Linked DNA regions of Homo sapiens: region 2 is linked to region 1. Evidence: fine-mapped expression QTL. Tissue or cell type: nasal epithelium. Region 1 holds a variant in brackets; the other region holds the start of a gene. All regions are shown on one strand. Distances are from middle to middle.

Region 1 (2,682 bases):
CAATATTTAGAGGGAAACTGATAAAGGGAAACTGAGACATGCTTTTATTTTTTTAAAAAAGAAATATCTCAACCATCCTGACCAACATGGAGAAACCCCGTGTCTCCTAAAAATACAAAATTAGCCAGGCATGGTGGCACATGCCTGTAATCCCAGCTACACGGGAGGCTGAGGCAGGAGAATCGCTTGAACCCAGGAGATGGAGGTTGCAGTGAGCCGAGATCGTGCCATTGCACTCCAGCCTGGGCAATAAGAACAAAATTCTATCTCAAAAAAAAAAAGAAATATCTCAAATCAATTATTTAAACTTTCACCTTAAAAACTGGAATAGGCTGGGCATGGTGGCTCACACCTATAATCCCAGCACTCTGGGAGATCAAGATGGGAGGGCTGCTTGAGCCCAGGAGCTTGAAACCAGCCTGGGCAAGACAGTGAGACCCAATTCTACAAAAAATAAAAAAATTAGCCAGGCACAGTGGTGTATACCTGTAGTCCCAGCTACTTGGGAGGCTGAGACAGGAAGATCCCTTGAGCCTAAAAGTTTGAAGCAGCAGTGAGCTATGATCACACTTGTACTCCAGCCTAGGCAATAAAATGAGACACCATCTCTTAAAAAACAAACAAAAAGCACAACTAGAAAAAGAGTAAATTATATCCTCCAAAAAGCAAAAGGAAGAGAATGATAAAGTGCATAAATCAAAGAAGCTGAAAAGAAAAACAACAGAGAAAACCAATAAAACCAAAAGCTAATTTTTTGAAAAGACTGATAAAATTGATAAATGTTTAGTCAATCTGTCCAAGCAAAATAGAGGGAAAATATAAATTAGCCAGGCATGGTGGCTTACGCCTGTAATCCCAGCACTTTGGGAGGCCGAGGGGGGTAGATCACCTGAAGTCAAGAGTTCAAGACCAGGAGGAGGAGCCAAGATGGCCGAATAGGAACAGCTCCGGTCTACAGCTCCCAGCGTGAGCGACGCAGAAGACGGGTGATTTCTGCATTTCCATCTGAGGTACCTTACCGGGTTCATCTCACTAGGGAGTGCCAGACAGTGGGCGCAGGCCAGTGTGTGTGCGCACCGTGCGCGAGCCGAAGCAGGGCGAGGCATTGCCTCACCTGGGAAGCGCAAGGGGTCAGGGAGTTCCCTTTCCGAGTCAAAGAAAGGGGTGACAGACGCACCTGGAAAATCGGGTCACTCCCACCCGAATATTGCGCTTTTCAGACCGGCTTAAGAAACGGCGCACCATGAGATTATATCCCACACCTGGCTCAGAGGGTCCTACGCCCACGGAGTCTCGCTGATTGCTAGCACAGCAGTCTGAGATCAAACTACAAGGCAGCAACGAGGCTGGGGGAGGGGCGCCGGCCATTGCCCAG[G/C]CTTGATTAGGTAAACAAAGCAGCCAGGAAGCTCGAACTGGGTGGAGCCCACCACAGCTCAAGGAGGCCTGCCTGCCTCTGTAGGCTCCACCTCTGGGGGCAGGGCACAGACAAACAAAAAGACAGCAGTAACCTCTGCAGACTTAAGTGTCCCTGTCTGACAGCTTTGAAGAGAGCAGTGGTTCTCCCAGCACGCAGCTGGAGATCTGAGAACGGGCAGACTGCCTCCTCAAGTGAGTCCCTGACCCCTGACCCCCGAGCAGCCTAACTGGGAGGCACCCCCAAGCAGGGGCACACTGACACCTCACACAGCAGGGTATTCCAACAGACCTGCAGCTGAGGGTCCTGTCTGTTAGAAGGAAAACTAACAACCAGAAAGGACATCTACACCGAAAACCCATCTGTACATCACCATCATCAAAGACCAAAAGTAGATAAAACCACAAAGATGGGGAAAAAACAGAACAGAAAAACTGGAAACTCTAAAACGCAGAGCGCCTCTCCTCCTCCAAAGGAACGCAGTTCCTCACCAGCAACAGAACAAAGCTGGATGGAGAATGATTTTGACGAGCTGAGAGAAGAAGGCTTCAGACGATCAAATTACTCTGAGCTACGGGAGGACATTCAAACCAAAGGCAAAGAAGTTCAAAACTTTGAAAAAAATTTAGAAGAATGTATAACTAGAATAACCAATACAGAGAAGTGCTTAAAGGAGCTGATGGAGCTGAAAACCAAGGCTCGAGAACTACGTGAAGAATGCAGAAGCCTCAGGAGCCGATGCGATCAACTGGAAGAAAGGGTATCAGCAATGGAAGATGAAATGAATGAAATGAAGCGAGAAGGGAAGTTTAGAGAAAAAAGAATAAAAAGAAATGAGCAAAGCCTCCAAGAAATATGGGACTATGTGAAAAGACCAAATCTACGTCTGATTGGTGTACCTGAAAGTGATGTGGAGAATGGAACCAAGTTGGAAAACACTCTGCAGGATATTATCCAGGAGAACTTCCCCAATCTAGCAAGGCAGGCCAACGTTCAGATTCAGGAAATACAGAGAACGCCACAAAGATACTCCTCGAGAAGAGCAACTCCAAGACACATAATTGTCAGATTCACCAAAGTTGAAATGAAGGAAAAAATGTTAAGGGCAGCCAGAGAGAAAGGTCAGGTTACCCTCAAAGGAAAGCCCATCAGACTAACAGCGGATCTCTCGGCAGAAACCCTACAAGCCAGAAGAGAGTGGGGGCCAATATTCAACATTCTTAAAGAAAAGAATTTTCAACCCAGAATTTCATATCCAGCCAAACTAA
Region 2 (2,682 bases), 27 kb after region 1:
CTGGGCAACTTCTGGATGACATCACTTACAAAGGAGCCGCTAGTCCCCTCCTATCTCCTGCGCTTTCCTACCCGTGGACATGTGGGTATGGTGGTGCCCAGCCAGCTTCAACCATGTGGATGAAGGTAATTCCCTCGGGGAGAGCAGGGAAGACAGGGAGGGCGAACGCAGCCTCGTGTAAGATCTTAATCCAATGCAGAACTGCGAAAACACATTATTTGGTGAAACTAAGGAAAGGTTTATAATCAGACATCCCTCCACACTTCCCTGGGCTAGGGTCTCTTCTGCAGCTCCTGCTTTTGGAATCCGGGGGTCTTTTCCAAATCCTCTGATCGCTCCTCCGCGCCTTCGGGGGGCAGAAGCCTCAGGGGTTTCAACACCTACGGCTCCCCCGCCCGCGCCCACGCCAAGCAGGGAGAAATCCTCAGTGCAGACGAGCTGCAAAAGATGACTCCAGCCGCCCGCTCTGCGGAGCCGCGCCCAGCGCGGCGGACCCGCCAAATCTGGGGGCTTCGGCCCGGGGGAGCCGCTAGACTCGCGCCTCAGGTCCCAGCCCCGGCGGCCAGCGTCTCCCGGGCTGCAGGGACCGGTCACCGTCGGGAGGTAGCTGCGGCCCCGAGTGGCCGCACCGCGACTCCGACTCTAAATCCAAGTTAGGAGACAAGAAAGCATTAAAAACGACAGGTTTCGATCTTTCCGAATCCGTTTCTGATGTGCCCGACAAGCGACAGAGGAGAAAATGTATGACCTTTAAAAACAAAAGCGCCGGTTCTAACGGGCCGCGGGAGGCGCGCAGGGCCGCTCCGAGGAGGGCAGACGGGAATCGGGGAGGGGCTCACCCAGTCTCCCGAAGGGCAGCCGATTCCTCTCTCCCAGCATCAGGTTGAATCTGGGGTTGTCTCGCCGCAGCCTCTTCCAGTGGCCGGTGGCGAGGAGCAGCCGGGAGACCTCGGCGTAGACGCTGCTGTTCTCATCGCGTACCACGAAGGTGTACATGGCGAAGCGCCGCGCGCCCGGGCCGCCGGGCAGCCGCCGCAGGGACCAGGCGGCCGAGAAGGCGGCTCAGCGCGGACCCCGCCCGGGCGCCCGCCGCGGCCCGGCCCCCGCCGCCCGCGCCGGCTACCGCGCCTCTCGGGTGCCGGCGGCGCCGCGCCCGGGCGCCCGCCGGGTGCCGGAGAGGAAAGCGCCGCTCGCACGCCCGCCCCCGCCGGCGCGGCCCCGCCTCTGTCCCGTGATTCCGCGCGGCCCGGCCCCGCCGCGCTCTGGAGGAGCCCGTGGGCGGCGGCGCCGCGCCCTTTCCGTACCCTCCCCCGGGGGCGGCGGCGGCGCAGGGTTGGAGACCCGCGGCGGTGGGCGCGGCTTTACCGCAGCGGGCGGACTGTGCGGTGGAACCGGAGCCCGGGCCTGGGGTGGTTCTTTCCGAGCCCCGGGTCGCAGCCGGGGGGCGGTGCCGGCGGAAGATCCCAGTTTGCAGGGCTCGATCTGGGTTTTTCTTCTATTGCCAAAGGACCTTTAATGGATAAAACCCAAAAGTTCTAAGGCCCGGTCCTGTGGCCTAATGAAGAAGCGCTTCCTCTTCCTCTTTGCTTAACGACTACGGAGACCCGGAGCGTCGGTTTTGTTTGTGTCGAGTGCTCCTTCCTTCGGCTGAGCCCAGGGTGGCGCACGGCCAAGGGGATGACCTTAGACTCTGCTGGTGGAAGCAGGTCCCAAACCGACCCCCTGGAGCCCTGGGCTCCGCTCTTTTCCTGCCTTTTACCGGCATTCAGCCACTTGCTTTCCCTTCTCCGGACCTCGATTTCCCCTTATGAGCGGCGGAGAGTGGCTCTTAAAAGTCCCTTCGGTTCTGATAGCCCACTCTGAAGACTGTGCTGCTGCATTTGAGATACAAAGAGAAGGCAATGATCATCAGAGCTCCCCCAAACTTCCTACAGTCCCTCATAAATTACCCACATCAGCCCTGCGCCTTGCATCTTTTACTCTCCTGTAGATAAAGAACACCCTGGGGCCTCTCCCCTTCCTGTCCCCCGATGCTCACGGTATCTACCCGAGCACATTGTAAAAGCGCCCTTCTCCTTCCCATCGTTGCCCAGATTCCACGGGGCCGCCAGGCGCTCACTCGCCTGTCTTGCGCACCGGCTCCACCTGCAGGCAACCGCTGGCTGTGGAGAGCCCGCTCAGAGCAGAAATGGGGCAGACTTAGAGGTGCTGGGTGCTTGCACTCCTTCCCAGCTGCTCTCCCTCCACGAGGGATAGAGTTGGTCGAGAATGCCCTGGCCCTCTCGCCCTCCGCACGTGCCCTGCGGGGAGGCGTGTGTCCTAGGCGTATTGCGGTGGTCCTCTGTAGGCCACGGCTGCGGTTGTCCACAGCTGCAACTTGCTCATCAGGGCATCTTCTGTTGGCTTCCTTCCTTTCCCTGACTACCGATGTTTCCTGGGATCACCTCCCAAAAAAACTACTGTACTCGTGCTCAAATTCTTGTTCCAGGGGGCACCGTTTGGGGGAACTCGAGCCAAGACGCTGTGTTTGCCGCTCTTCACGGCTGATCACCTTGAAAGTGACGTCCACTCCCACCATGCTGCATCAATTCCTCCTGCGACTCCTACTGACGACTCCTGTGCCACAGGTGGCTTCTCTCTGCCACTCCACAACCGTGGATCTCATTAGGAACACCAGTGACC

The links. PIP is the estimated chance that this variant, and not a neighbour inherited with it, causes the effect.
Region 2: it holds the start of TTL, and the variant in region 1 is fine-mapped to the expression of TTL in nasal epithelium (TOPMed, PIP 0.97).

What each region holds. Positions count from the first base shown.
Region 1 is chr2:112,508,077-112,510,758 of GRCh38, reverse strand. The region is part of intron 5 of TTL (tubulin tyrosine ligase); the gene reads right to left. Among named protein-coding and RNA genes, the nearest start is that of TTL, 27 kb to the right of the region's middle. The variant G/C (reference allele first, on the strand shown) is at 1,376.
Region 2 is chr2:112,480,659-112,483,340 of GRCh38, reverse strand. TTL (tubulin tyrosine ligase) reads right to left here and starts at 1,185. Exons shown (of 7, transcript NM_153712.5): 1 at 840-1,185. The coding sequence starts at 996. RefSeq lists silencers at 415-514, 1,075-1,464 and an enhancer at 1,785-1,854.